Homo sapiens: one gene and its partner. The protein of the gene in region 2 interacts with the protein of the main gene of each other region in a biochemical or structural test. Each region holds a gene or a part of one and is shown on either strand. Other genes may lie near its edges.

Evidence for each region. The genes of interacting proteins can lie anywhere in the genome.
Region 1: the proteins of RHOD (region 2) and DAAM1 form a complex in vitro, tested with the Homo sapiens proteins (one study listed by IntAct).

What each region holds. Positions count from the first base shown.
Region 1 is NC_000014.9:59,316,783-59,325,357, reverse strand, and holds part of DAAM1 (disheveled-associated activator of morphogenesis 1), read right to left. Parts: intron 4,869-8,575; coding exon 4,774-4,868; intron 2,467-4,773; coding exon 2,133-2,466; intron 1,231-2,132; coding exon 1,120-1,230; intron 1,008-1,119; coding exon 904-1,007; intron 1-903. UniProt on the Homo sapiens protein: Binds to disheveled (Dvl) and Rho, and mediates Wnt-induced Dvl-Rho complex formation. May play a role as a scaffolding protein to recruit Rho-GDP and Rho-GEF, thereby enhancing Rho-GTP formation. Can direct nucleation and elongation of new actin filaments.
Region 2 is NC_000011.10:67,052,754-67,061,421, forward strand, and holds the start of RHOD (rho-related GTP-binding protein RhoD), read left to right. Parts: upstream 1-4,093; 5' UTR 4,094-4,149; coding exon 4,150-4,281; intron 4,282-8,668. UniProt on the Homo sapiens protein: Involved in endosome dynamics. May coordinate membrane transport with the function of the cytoskeleton. Involved in the internalization and trafficking of activated tyrosine kinase receptors such as PDGFRB.

The DNA of each region.
Region 1 (8,575 bases), on a different chromosome or scaffold from region 2:
GGAAAAACATGCCCATATACCTACACTTAACTTCCAGCTGAATTAAAGATCACAAAAGAAATGATCATGCCATTCATTTATTCAGTCACATATGTATTGAGCTCCTACTATGTATTCTACACACCCAGGATACATTTTATGAAGACAAACACATCAGGGTAAAGGAAATAGAAAATGATGGCAGATGAGGTGAATAATGTACACACAGTGGTTAGAACAGGTCTCTCTCCAGGGAACTAGGGAACCAACAATTTGGACATCTGTGAAAGATCTTTTGAAGCTGAGGAAACAGCAAGCGCAAAGGCACTGATGCAAGAGTGTTCACAGAATATCAAGAAGAAGAGCATGTTGGAGTATATGAATATACAGGAGAGGAGAGCCGTGGTAGAGAAAAGCTCTGAAAGCAAGTTGGGATAGCTTAGACTCAGTGAAATGATAGCAAACGATGAAATGAACAGGTAGTGGAAATTAACATTCACAGAATGCCTATCAAAGGGGCTAAGTAATTCCATAGGTTTTATAGTCAATTTTTACATCATTCCTGGAAAATCACTGTCATTATCATCATCACCACCAGCACTATCTTTTGCAGTTATAAAAACAGCAAAATTCAGAAAAATTGAGTAACTTCACCAGGATACACAGGAATAAGAGGCAGGACTAGGATAGGATATGAATTCAGGTCTAATGCTAAAACCCACATTAAGTTCTCTACATAATGTGCTGCTTCCCTCATCAACAAAGTCTTACTATGAAAACATCATTAGCTGAACTAACATTCTGATACAAGCTCTTTATGTTACAGACAGGGCACAAGTAACCACAGGCCAGCACTTGATGAGGTATTGCATTACACAGATGGGAAACACAGAAACTTTCTCACATCATAATAGTCTGACTTACCTATCTAATGTTGAATTTTCGTGTTCCCTTAATTTATCTATTACAGGTTGAATTCCTAACATCAGAAATTCATAGCGAAGATGAAGTCTAAAGTCCAAACTCTCCTGAAAGTAAAATGGCAATAAAATACATATTTGTGGTTTTTAGACTACATAATAATCACTTTTTATAAATTATTATTTACTAATATATTTTTAATTTGTAGAAGGTTCTTACCACTCCTGCACCTTGGCTGAGCACTGCATTAATGAAGGACATGATGGCAGTCTTGAGACTCACTTCATCTCGATACCGCCCAGTGCTTTTATCCAAGTCGTTAATTAATGTCTATCAAAAATAGAAAAACAAAGGACTGAAACGTTACTAACCTTATGCTCATTTTATGAATTTTTTTATACTCAAAAGTTAACTTTTTTTTTTTTTCAGACGGAGTCTTGCTCTGTTGCCCAGGCTGGAGTGCGGTGGCATGATCTCAGCTCACGGCAACCTCCACCTCCCGGGTTCACGCCATTCTCTTGCCTCAGCCTCCCGAGTAGCTGGGACTACAGGCGCCCACCATCACACCCAGCTAATTTTTTGTATTTTTAGTAGAGACGGGGTTTCACTGTGTTAGCCAGGACAGTCTCGATCTCCTGACCTTGCGATCCGCCTGCCTCAGCCTCCCAAAGTGCTGGGATTAGAGGTGTGAGCCACCAAAAAGTTAACTTTTAAAATCTTACGTTTAGACAGGATTACACTGACCCATAGAAAGCCACCCTTTTTCTCCTTAAGAACAGTCCTAAAAACTCTAATTTCAAAATTCTTACATCATACATACATGTATACAAAAGCCTTTGCTTCATTATCTCTGCTTGCTTTTTACATCCAAGTAATATAGTGAAATATGAAAAATTATTAATATTGATCCTAATTCAAGAATGGCAAGCTGTAAAATTTTCAGGGAACACCCAGTTTGGTGGGTTCAAAAGATGTGTGCTATATGACATATAGGATGCAAGACCACATTTTCAAGTTCTGCAAATCTAAAGGCCCAGATTCATCAACTATTGAAAGTATACTCTATTCTCTGGTTCTTAAACCTAAGAAGAAGGGAATGTTTAAAGTCACACTGTGAGTAATCACCACAAGAGGACATCTCAAGTAACATTCCCCTTTCAGGGACAGGAAAAGCACGTGTTTGAGCAGACTTTAAAGAAGGGGTGAGTGAAGAAGGCTGAGCGAACACCCACCTGAAAGCGGGTCCTTTCGCTGGCATACTTCTGGTAGTGCAGCATGGCCTGCAGAACCTTCTTGTGGCCCCCGGGAACCAGGCACACGGCGCCCAAGATTTCCAGCACGGCCACCTTCGTTTTAATGTTCTCTGTGCTCAGACTCTGAGCAATTACATTAATACTCTCAGAATGAGCCAGGACGTGAGCCCGGCCTTGAGAGTTGTTCATTAACGCCTTTATACAGCCAATGAGAGAAGTATGTATTCGAGACTCTGAGGTCTCGTAGTCCATGGTCTTTAGAAAGTTGAGGATACATGATAGGCCATCCAAGTCGATGAATCTGGTTACAAACCTGTCATGAAGAGAAATGCACCATGCTTAAGTGCCTTTGGGTTTTATAATAGCCCCTAACAGAAAAGTCTAGAGGGCAGGGGAAAGAAAGATTTAGTTCCTAAAGTGCCAAAAGGCTTACATTGATGAAGTCTTTTTAATTCTTTGCCTCTTCCTTGGCACAGACCCAATAGTCAGTTCTAACCAAAAGTGTGAAAAAAAACCCCTCCATTTGTGATAAACATATCTCAATGGGTACAAAGAACCAAACAACAGATCATATATTCATAAAAAATTAGAAGCAAGAGAATACTCGGAATACATATCTTGTCTTAGATTAAAACCATCTGCTGTTCCTGTGTTATTTAGCATACAGTTCCCATGCCCCCACCCCAATCCTTTTTTTTTTTTTCTTTAAGAGAGACAGGGTCTTGCTCTGTCATAGCTCACTGCAGCCTTGAACTCTTGGGCTCAAGTGATCCTTCCACCCCAGCCTCCCAAGTAGCCGGGACTACAGGTGCGTGCCACCATTCCCAGTCAATTTTTTCTTTTTAACTTTTTTTTTTAAGAGGTGGAGACTTGCTATGTTGCCCAGACTGGTCTTGAACTTGTGGCCTCAAGCAAACCTCCTGTCTCAGCCTCCCAAGTAGCTGGGATAGTGAGTGACCATGTCTGGCCCATGCGCTTTTATATGTTGATTGCTGACGCACTTTTAAGTGCTGATCACTGACCCAAACACCCTATCAATGAAAGTCAAAAGCTTCCTTAAATTCCAGGATATTTGCTTGTTGAACAAATGATAATCTACATCCCTAAGGTTTTGTGACAAAATTCTTCTCTTATATGACATGCTACATGGAATCTCAATATTCCATGTACACTGAATACAATAATAAAGCAATACTTTATTGTTGCATACTAACGTTATTAATATTTCTTACACTTAAGTTAATCAATGAGACTAACTCACAATGCACATGTACATATTAAAGCCACCGAAAAGTTCAGAAGTAACATAACCTGTTTATGTGATAAATTTTCCAAACTTATTTAGGCTTGGATATCGATTAACATCTGAGAGTGCAGAACATATTGAGAGAAATGCTGATACAGTTAGGATAGTCTAGATCTCTGTCATATAACTACACAGTATTTTTCATGAGTCAGACTTTTCTTAGTTTGCATTTTATAGTCAAATAAAGAAAGGGAATCTTTATTTTCTAGGCTTTTCACCCAACCACATGACCCAGATGTAGCCAAGCTCGTTAAACCAGTTGGCTTCATTCATAGCACCTGTGCTCATGTAATGTACTTATAAGAACCTCAGCATCTCAGCAAATCCTAGAGGCATTAAAGGAATGAAAGTGCAGGAGGCACAACATAGAAGCTGATTATCAGAGAGGAAATGAATCACTGTTGCCAGAAAGTGTACCCATCTTTAAAGAAAAGTAATACTTGTATTGAGAAATAATTCACATGCCATAAAATTCACCCTTTTAAAGTGTACAATTCAGTAGCTTTTAGTATATTCACAGAGCTGTGTGACCAACAACACTAGCTAATTTTAGAACAGTTTAATCACCCAAAGAGAACATTTTCCCCACTTCCTCAGCTCCTGGCAACCACTAATCTACTTTCTGTTTCTATGGATTGGCCTATTCTGGGAATTTCTTATAAATAGAATCATACAGTGTGTGGTCTCCTTTGTTACTGGCTTCTCCCACTTAGCATATTTCAAGGTCATTTCATGTTGTAGCATGTATCAGTACTTCATTCCTTTTTTTTGTAGCCAAATTATATTCCATTATGTGGATATATAACATTTCATTTATCCATTCATCAGCTGATCAATATACGGGTTATTTTCACTTCTTGGCTATCATGAATAATGCCGATATGAACATCTGCATACATGTTTTTGGGAGACATGTCTTCATTTCCCTTGGCTACATTCCGAGGAGCAGAATTATTGAGTCATATGGCAACACTATATTTAACATTCTGAGAAACTGTTAAAACCCTTTTCCAAAGTGGCTTCACAATTTTACATTCCTAGCAGCAATGAATGAGGGTCCCAATTTTTCTACATTCTTGTCTACTAACTTACCATTGTTAAAGTCTCTCTCTGTTTTGTTTTTTTTTAGCCATCCTAGTGGCTGCCTACATACCTTTTCACAGAAGAAAATAACTTTATTAAATGTTAATGATTAAAGTATGTTATGGTTTAATTTTATGGTTTTAACTTAAGACTTCCTAGAAGGTTTGACTATTGCAAAAAAAGGAAGGAAGGAGAGAAAAAAAAAAAACATGCCATCCAGGGGAAAATTACCTCATTGGTTTTGTCCTCAGTGCTGTCTTTAAACTCTCTATAGTTTTACTTCTTTCTTCTTCTTCTTCCTTCTCTAAAGCCAGCAGAGATTTTCTCTATGCAAAGAAAACAGAAGTTACTTCTTCAAATTCTATTTTTTAATTACAGTACAAACAAGACAAACCTACAGATTATTTGTCACTATCACTTTAAATATAAACAACAAATCTATGATTAAGTAAGTTAAGTCTTTCAAATTTTAAATAAAGCCTTAGGGAAAAGTTTAGAAATCTTCGTAGAGATGACGTTGCCCAAATGCTTGTATAACTATTCTATAATTACACTTTGATGTAGATACTACTACTTGTATTTGATAGAAATAAGACTGAACCTGTAGTTGAATACAACATTCTGGCAATTAAAGATAATAATACCATCACATTATCAAAAACAGGAGGTGGGCAGCAGTCCTCCTATGCTACCATTCCTATTCCTCAGCCAAAAAGTGTAATCAAGACCAAAGGGATTTTGTTACATCTAATTATTTTTTAAGAGGAAAAATTAATTTGGAGCTATTACTAGGATAGACAATTCCTTCAGAGTAAATGCGTAACTTCTAGAAATTATTCAACATCATTTAGAAATCAGGATATGGAGTGAGTGTGTGTGTGTGTGTGTGTGTGTTTCTACCCAGGGATCTGCTAGAGCAGTGCTTCTCAAACTTTAATATGGATATGAAAATCACCTGAGGATAGTGTTAAACTATGGAGCCTGGTTTGGTATGTCTGGGGTGAGGTCTGAGATGTTGCATTCCTGACAAATTTCTAGGCAATGCTGATGCCGCAGAAGCAAGGTTCCATGTAAGATTGCAGTTGTTATTATAAAATTGAGAATGCCAGTAAGGTGTCTAGACCTTTCCATTCCCTTTCACTCTGTGATCACCTGGTTGCACTAAAGTACCCCAAGTCTTATGACTCCAGGATCCTCCATCCATGGAGCTCCTGGTCCCTTTTCTTCATCCTATTCTGAACACACGCTTGTCTAGTTTAATCTTTTTACCTATTACAAATTCTGATAGAAATGCTTGGCTGAGAAACAGATTGGGGTGACTGTATTGAAAAAGAAAAGCTTGACTCATATCCATGGGTCTCAATGACCCAGTCTCAGCCTTTCTTTCAGGACCATAACTCATCAAGAGTGACAATCAATAGTATCAGCATTAAGTAACTAATGTTAACTAAAAGCTAAATATGATTTCATAATGAGAAGGGTAAAGATCAAAGCAAAATAAATATAATACATCAGTATCATTTATGGCAACTGAAATAAAACCCAGTAGTTTTTTCGGTCTTTAAAATCTTGTTATTGTTTCTGCAAAGTTGTCCTCTTGCTGGTGATGCTCACAGACAGCTGTCACCAGGGGATGGTGAGTAAGGAAGCTGGGTGCAGAGACAGCCAATGAATTCTCCCAAAGCTCCCTGAGACCCATCCCCTGGAAAACTCACACAAATCCAGCCAAGAACGTTTAATCTCCAATGACATAGCTGAACTCGTTTGGACTCTTATGCAATCACTTTGAATCTGTAGCTCAGAATCCAGCCTTTTATGAAGATCATTCCTTGTTCCTAAGCTTAATGACACAAAACTATCCCCAAATTAATGACTACACATTTTACTGCGGGTCACTAGTACAAATAAAACTGCATGTATTTATCCTTTTAAAAATCCTGGAGAGGGTGGCACATTTGAATAGCAGCAGTCTATATTAAGTTTCTCCATACTAGAGTTGGGAGATTTATGAAATGTCAAAGAAAATTAAGTTGGAAATTCCTTTCCCAATACTGTGTAAGGAACATAACCTTTCAAAACAGAAAAGACTACAACATTTTCTATGTGTGATTTTTCAGATTTGGTTCTGAGATTATATTTATCGTGCTGAGATAACTGAGGATATGTAGCTGAACTTGATGTTCTAAATGTGACTTTTCAAAATAAAATAATTTCTACAAAGTTTAAAGCTTTCAAGCCTCACATTTAGGAAGAAGGTTTAATTTGCAACTTTTAGTAGATAAGGGAGATGCCTAGATTTCTGAAGATGATTACTATGCCAAATATCTAGTATGCACAGGCCTTGTGGAGGCTTCTTTGAATGCTCTATGCACTTACTAAATACCTGCTCACATGAGAAGCAGGCAAAGGACAAAGCGCATCCTTGCAGAGGGTCTTTCTGTCAAAGCTGCTAAGGTGTACATTGGAACACGCGGGTCTGACAGAGAGGCACAAATGTGGCCCAGAGGTCATTCCTGCTGGGAGTCTGGAACTTAGCTCCCGTTTGAATCGTTTCTTTGGTGGGAAATCAATAAGCCAGTCCACTAAGCATACTGAACTTCACCTCACAGTCTTCCTCCTTGAGAAAGCATGGAGAAACCACATATAAAGAAAGCCCAGGTCCTTCTAGATGTTAGGCCACACTCTTTATTATACTATTTTTCACTCTTTAAAAGCCAACAGATCACTCAGGGGTCCTTTAAAGAACAAAGCATTCTTGTAATGAGGCTTACATAAAGTAATTGAACTTGTTCCAAAAAGGCTGGCTTCACAGACTAGTAAGTGCTGCAGTTCTCCACCTGGACTGTTTATCAGACTCTTAAGACATTAAAGAAAACAGAAGCCTATCCCATCTCAGAAAAGTCAGGCTTGCTAGGCCTGGGGGTGGGGAGAAGGTGGGATAACCAGGGCTCTTTCACATGCCACAGGGTTTCAAAAACTGAATTAGTGAGAGGCAAATTGGAAAGGAGTCTTTGGGCTTAGACGGATACATTTAAATTCCCAATTAGATGACCACCTCCTAATTAGATAACCTTGGGCAAGGTAACCTTTCTGGAGTCTCAGACTCCTTATCTATAAATAGCACTTACAGCATAGGATGCTGGTGGGACCGCAAACAACATATGAAGTGCCTGTTACCCTGCTTGTCATGTAGTAGTTGCTGCTGATTCTGCAGACAATGGGTGATGACAATGTGGACAAACACTCCTTCAAGAATGCCCTAAGCAGACAACCAAAGAGTCTAGCTGCTGGGCCATGAAAGGATTTGGAGAACTTGTGTGCCTTTCCACTGCTCCAGGTACAATATCTCAGGATTTCTGCTGTGTGTTATCAAGAATTCTCCAGTACAGACATCATAGTGATTAGCCAGAACTATGCAAGGCGGTGGTGGCAATCAGAATGTTGAGAAAAACAGAAAACTCAGCATAGGGTTTCTGGTCTCATCAGATCTCCTTATTCCCTGAAGTATGCAGGAATTTTGAGGCCTCACTAATTCATGGACTATTAATGCCTTTTACCTTTGACCCTGGAAAGATGTTGGCTCAGTCCTAAAAGGAACATTAGAAAGCTTTCTTAGGTGTTTGACACAAAAAGTATAGCAAAGTCACTGACAATTTAATAGACTTGTGGTGCTCTTGGGAAGGATTTTGGATTGGGAACCAAACACACAGCAGTTAAAATGTAGATCACTCAAGAATGTGGCAAAGAATTGTCCAAGGAGCTGGATGGAGGAGAGAGGAGGCCCTTAAAGAAGGGCCACATGTTGGCACATCACAGACCCTGTAGCACACAAATGAACCAGGTCTACTTCAGACAAGGCAGGGATTAAGTCACTAAAGGACAAATTAATCTAACTGTCCTATACTTGAAGAAAGGAAAAATCCATACAGTACTTAGTAGTTCCCCATTTATAGAAGGGAATTCATTAACAAATAAGCAACTTCTCATTAGATAACAAACATGCAAATTTAATTAGAAAGAGAAACAATTCTTT
Region 2 (8,668 bases):
GAAGCAGAGCAAGCCACTGCATCACGGTCGGCAGCAGCTCTAAGCTCCAAACTTCCCTTCCTCTCTTCTATCTGTCTGTGCCTGCAGACCCCCAAAAGGGACAAATCAAAAGGCTTAATAAGCACCAGGATGGGGCCACCAGACCTCCTCTCTCTCCACCCCTCCCACCCTATTATCAGCCCTTCCGTCCCAACCTGAAAGATCAATAATGGTTTGGCAGGGAGAGGAGGCCAGGGCAGGAGGGCACGTCCCCGTGGCCTGGGGCTCCAGTTAGATGGCAGCCAGGCTGGAGCTGTCTGGGCAGGCTAGACAAAAAGAAACTTGGGAGCAGAGGCCCTCTGGTTTCCACCTGGCGTAAAGCTGAGTCTGCTGCTCACTTGCTGTGTAAGTTCCTTCCCTTCTCAGGCCTCAGTTTCCCCATCTGAAGAATGGGGGTGTTGGATAAGATGGCCTCTAAAGAGCCCTGTACCTCTGACTTTTGGACATTCTGTGTGTATGGACTCCGGAGCCCAAGGGCCTGGGTCCAAATCCCAGCTTCTCTGCTTACTAGCTGCGGGACCTTGGGCAAATTATCCAACCTCTTTGGGCCTCAGTTTCCTCACTTGTCAAAGGAGGATAAGAATTGAACATACTTCATAGGATGGCATGAAATGACATGTGCCAAGTGTCCGGCACAGGTAGGTGCTCAGTAAATGCGAGGTCAAGGCTTTGGGTGGAGGAGTTCAGGCTGAGGGCAAAGGCTCTTAGGATCCAGTATTTCAGATGAATGTGGGCCAGGGACGGGCGCGGTGGTTCACGCCTATAATCCCAGCACTATGGGAGGCCGAGGCGGGTGGATCACCTGAGGTCAGGAGCTTGAGACTAGCCTGGCCAACATGGTGAAACCCCGTCTCCACTAAAAATACAAAAATTAGCTGGGCGTGGTGGCAGGTGCCTCTAATCCCAGCTACTCAGGAGGCTAAGACAGGAGAATCGCCTGAACCCGGAAGGCGGAGGTTGCAGTGAGCCGAGATCACATCACTGCACTCCATCCTGGGCAAGACTCCCCATGGAAAAAAAAAAAAAAAGAGCAGAGGACAGGGGATGCACGCGGAACCAAGAGCTTCGGGAGCTACACACCAGGGCCCGTGCACCCTGCCAAGCCACTCCAAGGGGAAAGACTGTATCTCTCCCCTTCATTCAGCCATCCACAAACACCCCACACCCCCAAGCCAGGAACCCCAAGCAGGGAGGCAGCCCCAGGTGATGACTGTGCAGGGAGCTGAGCGACCACATGAGGGCAGTGGAGACTCGATCAGGACCGCATAGGATTTGGCCTTAGGATGGGGGTGGGATGTGAGAAAATGGGGAGAGGGGTGAGGCCAGGGGGCCTTGGAGTAGGCGGAGGCTGGAGAGTGGTTGCCTGTCCACAGACTCCCCATTCATGTCACATGTGGTATTCGTCATCCATGCAAGTATTTGTTCCTTTATTCATTTCTTCAGTTTGTTTATTCTTCTAAGCCAGCCCCTCTGCCGTCCATCCTTCCGTCTTTCCTTCCTCTCTTTCTCACTCTGTTTTTTTCTTTCTTGTCCCTTTGGTTTGTCTGGCCAGGAGATCAACTGGGCATACCGTCCTGAGCCACAGCTGGGTGCCAGCCTGAGAGAGGCACTCCTCTAGGGGATACGGTGAGCCTTGGCCCCTGCCCTTGAAGGGTTCAGGGCAGTAGGCCACGGTGCTGGGCTCCCCACAGATCTGGGCCTGGGGTTGGTGGGGCCTCGAGGGGCCTAAGTCTCCCACAGGCTGCAAGTCCTGAGAAGCCTCAGTAAACACTAAAACAGTAAACAGTACCCTGGCCAGGCAGACTGTGTGACCTGGGCCACCACTCTAAAAATAAATTCCAGGAAAACAGTATGGTCCCAGGTCCAGCAATGTCTGAGATTCAGGGACATTCCCTGCCAACCAGAGCCGATTTCTGTGGCCTGGTGACTAAGCTCCCTCTCGCAGGAGCGTAAGCATGGTGGGGGAGCGGAGGCTGGGGCTTGACGTCAGGAGATTGAATCCTTGCTGTGTCCTGCTGGTCTAAGACACCCCTCTGCCTCTCTCTGAGGCTCAGTTCCCAAATCTGTAAAATGGGAGGAAGCAGGTCATCTGCTTGGTCTACCTCGTGGTCTGAGAGCTAAATGAAATTGCAATTGTGCAGATGAGGCGTGATGGAGGGAGACCACCTGGCTTTGGGGTCACGCCTGGATCCAAATTCTAGTTCAGCCTCTTACTAGCTGTGGATGTTAGTCAACAACTTAGCCTCTCTGGGCCTCAGGCTCCTCATCTGTGAAATGGAGCTAAGAGTCCCTACCTCCTAGGGAACAGTGCCTACACGTGGCTTGCAATCCACTAATGGGTGTTGTTATTATTAGGAAATGTTCAGTGAAACTGTATAGCATGACAAACATCAAGTGTGTCATTACAGAGATTATCCCTATAGCAACCAAGGCCAAACGCCTCTGCCTGACTCTCAGCTCCCTCCACCCCCAGTCTGGCCCCACCTGCCTTCCAGCCTTGCCACCCAAGGCCTGACGACAGCAGCAGTTGGGAGGAAGATGCTGACAGCTGATCCGAGGGGGTGGGGCCCCTCTCACCACTCCTTGGGGCGGGGAGCCCTGCTCTGGAGCTACCTGCCCAGCCCAGTGTCAAGTCACTGCCGAGCCCTGTGGCAGTTTCGGGGAGGAAGGGGCACCTGGAAAGGCAGAGCTGTGCTGGGGAGGATCCTTCCCTCCAAGTGGGGCTCCATCCAGCCTGCAGACCACAGCCCGGAGCGGGAGCCGGGCAGAGGAGTCAAGGAGCTGGGCTCTGCCTCTCCACCTAGTGACTCCTGCCCTGGCTGCCTCTTTAGACCACAGTGAGTTTAAAGGAGGTTGAAGGTGCTTTTTCACCTGCCTGACTTGGAACTCCATGAGGGGGGATGTCATGACCAGCATAAATTAGGGGGAACCTAATGACGTCTGCCCCTTGTTCTTTTAAGCTTCAATAGAAACACTCAGTCCAAGATCTGGGAAGACCCTTGTGCCCATTTTTAAAAGATTTCAACTCTGGCCATTAGGAGAAGTGGAGAGATCAGGTGACAATGAGTTCCCAGTTCAATGCTGGATTTACTGCTGGCATCCAACGTGCTCCACTGAGCAAGCACCAGCTCCTCATGCTGCACCACTGTGCAAGCGAGCCTCACCCTCTGCGGGGGCGGGGTGGGGGGGCAGCATTCCGCTCCGGCCTCCGCAGCTTCGCACGTGCCGCTGTCTCCGGTGGAACACCTTTTCCCTCCCCCATCTGACTGTGTTTCACTTTTTCCTCAAGACTCTGAAAGGTTTCCTGACTCCCTCAACGTGGGCGAGGAGCTCTTTTCCCCTACTCCCGTCCCGCTGCCTGTCCCTACTCCCGTTGTAGTTCTGATCACACTGATGTCCTGCGTGTCTACCATTCTAAGCCGTGGGCTTCTCAAGGCAGGGCCTGGATTTTGTCTTAAACAGTTCAGGGTCCCCGGGCCCTTGGGCACCAGGGGGACATCTCATGGTGCAATAATAAGAAACACTCACACTTTACAGAGGGAAGGTTCTATCGCTTTCCCTAGATCGTGGCCAGCCACGGTGTCAGGTGGCTGCCCACCTGCAGCAGAGCTTCCTGGTGCTGCGGGAGGGGGCAGGCCAGGCCTGGTGGGGCCAGTGAAGGGGGTCATCCCCTTCCCACCTGGCATGAAACGCCTGTGTTGTGCTGCGTCCTGAGACCCCTGGGGAAATGCACCATTCATTCATTCATTCATTCATTCACTAAAGGTCACTGGCTCCTGCCTGGGATCTGGGACCCAGCCCCTGAGCACACCCCCGCCCCCACTGTCATGGTCCCGCTGTTTGTCTTCTCCCTTCCGACCTCCCGTGGCCCCAGCGCGGCCAGCTCACAGTAGGTGCTCGGGCAGCGTTTCTTCAGGGACCTAGACGGCCTGGAGAGGAAGGGCCCCAGCCCAGCCGCCCGGGCCTCTCACCTGGCTCTCGGGGCGCCCGGCTCGCACTTCCTCCCGCCGCCCCGCCCCTTCCACATTCCTGCCCCGCCGGGCCTGCCCCGCGCAGTCTGGGTCTCTGCGCCGCAGCCGCCCGCCCGCCCGCTCAGCGCCCGGCCCCGGGATGACGGCGGCCCAGGCCGCGGGTGAGGAGGCGCCACCAGGCGTGCGGTCCGTCAAGGTGGTCCTGGTGGGCGACGGCGGCTGCGGGAAGACGTCGCTGCTGATGGTCTTCGCCGATGGGGCCTTCCCCGAGGTGAGTGCCCCGCGCCTCCGCCTCGCCCGGTTCCGCTCGCGCGCCCGGGTGTACAGGTCCGTGCCGGAGCGGCCCAGGCTGTGCGCCTAACCCGGCCTCCGAGGGGTGTCCCAGCGGGGCCTGGGGTCCAGGGCAGAGTTCTTCCGCCCCAGCCATTGGGAATGAAGGCCTCAGTGATGTTATCTGTAAAGCCGGAGGAATGGCATCCACCGGGGAGAGGTGTCACAAGGACTGAGTGAGGCGACCTGGGTGCACACAAGATCCTAAGACAGCACTTGGCCACACAATTCCGCTGAGGGCCTGAGAGCTTGGAAGCCAGACTGCCGAGGTTCAAATTATGGCTTTGCCTCTTATAGCTGTGTGCCCTTGGGTAAGTCCCCTAACCCTGCTGTGCCTGTGTCCCTCACTACATCACAGGTGAGTGACAGTGCCCACCACACAGGGTCACTGTGACAGAGAGTTAATAGACCTCAAGCACTCAGCCCCGGCCTGTGCACAGGAAGGACTCACGGAGAGTTGGCACATGTCGCTCCTGGGAAACATTGTCTCCCTTCCAGCTCTTGCCGCTGGAAAGCACATGCCATGGGCTCTGCCTTGGAGGGTGGGAGCACGCCAGCTGTAGCCTCAGCTGCTGGGCCCGCGTCTCTGCTCTCCTCTGAGCCCCGTGCCCTTTTGTAACCTGCTTAGCTTCTCTGAGCCTCAGTTTCCTCACAACAACCCCATGGGGTAGAGGGACTGTAGGGCAGTGGTGAAGTGGAGCCCAGGGGAGGCTGACAGGCAGCTCCCGTGCGGTAGCTGGCATGTCCTTGGCGCTGTAGGCATGCCCACCGTTAATCCTTCCTGACATGCTCACTGACTGCCCAGGCAGACTCCACGGGCACCAGGCGGCCCCTGCTCTGCCGCCTCTCAGCCCTGTTGTCCTGGGAGTCCATGGAGTTGCTTCCAGCATCTCTTCTTTTTTTTTATTTTTATTTTTTTTGAGAAGAGTCTCACTCTGTCACCCAGGCTGGAGTGATATTGGCACAATCTCAGCTCACTGCAACCTCCGCCTCCTGGGTTCAAGCGATTCTCTTGCCTCAGCCTCCTAAGTAGCTGGGATTACAGGCGCCCACCACCACGCCTAGCTAATTTTTAAAATTATTTTATTTTATTTTATTTTTGAGACGGAGTCTCGCTCTGTCGCCAGGTTAGAGTGCAGTGGCACAATCTCGGCTCACTGTAACCTCTGCCTCCCAGGTTCAAGCGATTCTCCCGCCTCAGCCTCCCGAGTAGCTGGGACTACAGGCGCGTGCCACCGTGCCCAGCTAATTTTTGTATATTTTTAGTAGAGACAGGGTTTCGCCATGTTGGCCAGAATGGTCTCGATCATTTGACCTGGTGATCCGCCCACCTTGGCCTCCCAAAATGCTGGGATTACAGGTGTGAGCCACCACACCCAGCCAATTTTTTTATTTTTAGTAGAGATGGAGTTTTGCCATGTTGGTCAGGCTGGTCTCGAACTCCTGGCCTCAAGCGATCTGCCCGCCTCGGCCTCCCAAAGTGCTAGGATTACTGGCCTGAGCCACCGCAACTGGCATTCTTCCTCCTTTTCTTCCCAGCATCCTCTAAGCCCCTGGGGTTGTATAGGTGCTGGAGCATCTGAGCACAAGCAGGACGGTCGGGCCTACCCCAGTTCTTATCACACTGTAGTTCTTATCAGGATGATATCTGTCTGCCTGTCTCCCACCCTTGGCCCATGTGCTTTCTGCTGCAGTGGCATTGAGCCACTTTTGTTTAGTAGCTTGCGGAGCTGGTGTCACCTCCTTTGACCAGTCATACATTTTTTTAAGTTGGGGGAAACATGTTTCTGGGCCCCTAGATGCTGCCCATGGGAACCCAACAATGAGGGCACCCGGGGAAGAGCACCACACAGGGACAGGTGGCCCAGGCCCAGGGGAAGGCACCTGATGGGCGGGGGCTGGAGGGCTGATGCCTCACCACCAGCTCTGAGATGTCCTTGATGGTGAGACCATCCCAACTTCAGAGGAGTTATGACGTGGAAATGGGCCTCTTCCAGTTGATAAGATGTGAATGCTTTGAGGGACATGCTGGGGCTGGCCAGAAATGGGGGGAGGGCATGCTTATCACCAGGAAAATGGGCTGGATTTGTCCAGGCTCCTCCCGTCTGGGGGCTCTGAGTTCCCTGGAGCAGGAGAGTCCTCTTCATTTAAAGAACCCACAATGGGCCGGGCGTAATGGCCCACACCTGTAATCCCAGCTCTCTGGGAGGCCAAGGTGGGTGGATCACCTGAGGTCAGGAATTCAAGACCAGCCTGGCCAACATGGTGAAACCCCATGTCTACCGAAAATACAAAAAAAATTACCCGGGCATAGTGGCAGGCGCCTGTAATCCCAGCTACTCGGGAAGCTGAGGCAGGAGAATCGCTTGAACTCAGGAGGTGGAGGTTGCAGTGAACCGAGATCGCGCCATTGCACTCCAGCTCGGGGACAACAGAGCGAGACTCCGTCTCAAAATATATATAAATATATATATATATATGTAATTAAATAAATTAATTAAAAGAACCCACAACGTGTAAGAGTTGGAAAGGCTTCATTTTGCAGATGGGAAAACTGAGTCCAGAACCCAGAGGCTTACCTGGGGGCACATGGCCCGGCAGTGGCAGCACTGATCTAGAGCCCAGGTCTTCCCCCTCCCGACCAGGGCCTTCTCCACAGCCCCCAGTGCTCTGCCTGCTGGACCCAGCCTCCTCCTGCCCCTGTCCCTAGCACCAGACTCTTCCTCTAGGCAGCCCTCGAAGCCCAAGGGGCCAGCAGCCAGGAGGCTGGAGTCCCATCTCCCAGACTTCCTGCACACAGCAAAGGGCTGAGAGCAGCCTGAGGATTTGGAGGGACCTCAGTGACCCTCATCTGGCTGTGACCCAACCCTGGATTCAGGGCAGCAGGGGAGGGCAAGGTGGAGAGAGCTCCTAGGACAGGGGGAAGCCCCAGGCTGGGGTGCCAGCCTCTGCCCAGTCCTGGCTGGCATTTGTGGCTGCAACCATTCCCACAGGTTCAAAGCCTAGCAGCCCCCACACCAGCATGGGGATAGGAGGTGGCAGGGAGCACCCGGCCCTGCTGGCTAGAGCCCCCTGGGTCCTTCCTGGTTCGCACTTGGACTCCCATGGGTGTCCTAACCAGGGATGCCCCGACACTCCCTCTTGAGCCAGGTCCCCCATCTTGGTAATGATTCATTTTCTGTCTGTGAGCCCCTGGAGGGCAGACCTGAGCCTGAGTCATCTCCGTCCTGGTCCAGCACAGGCCCAGTCCTTCTTTTCTGGCTGAGGACGGCTTAACAGATAAAATTAGGTGCCATTGATCCCATGGACAGAGGGTGACCCTGCCTGGGGGTCAAAGAACAACACAACAAAAGGTACAGACAGAGTCTCTAGGATGACGTCCCGAGTGGGGGAAAGGGCTGTGACAGTTACAAGCCAGAGGGGAAACCCAGCCCCTTTCTGTCTCCGGGAACTGGAGTTGGTAACCTCAGGAAAGGCAGGTGGCTGAGGACAAGGCCTGGTCTCTGCAGCCACAAAGACCTGGCTCTGTCACTAGCCAGCTGTTCAGTGTGTCACCTTGAACAAGTCATTTCCTCTCTCTGGGCATCATCAGAAAGTGAAGGTTGTACTGACGTTCCGAGCTTGCAAGGATCGGAGATGGTGCCAGTACACAGCCACACACAGAAGATCCTTAGAGAATGGTGGGTGGTGGTGTCATTACCATGGGCATTTGCAAAGCACTGAAACATGTCTCCCAAGAGATTTCCAGCAGGCTGCCTTGCAGCTCAGATCAAGAAGGTGACTGAGTGGGTGGTCAAGCTGGGAGCTCAGATGCAAGGGCACCAGTGCCCTTCACAATGACAGGCCCCTACTCTAGGACAAAGGTCAGAAGCTGCGGAGGGGCTGGGTGTATTAGTCCATTTTCACATTGCTATAAAGAACTACCCGAGACTGGGTAATTTATAAAGAAAAGAGGTTTAATTGACTCACAGTTCTGCATGGCTGGGGAGGCCTCAGGAAACTTACAATCATTGTGGAAGGTGAAGTGGAAGCAAGGCACTTCTTATGTGGCAGCAGGAGAGAGAGAGAAGGGGGAAGCACCACACTTTTAAACCATCAGATCTCGTAAGAACTTCCTCACTATTGGCCAGGCGTGGTGGCTCACACCTGTAATCCCTGCTCTTTGGGAGGCCAAGGTGTGCAGATCACTTGAGGTCAGGAGGAGTCCAGCCTGGCCAACACTGTAAAACCCCATCTCTATTAAAAGTACAAAAATTAGGCTGGGTACGGTGGCTCACACCTGTAATCCCAGCACTTCGGGAGGCCGAGGCGGGTGGATCACCTGAGGT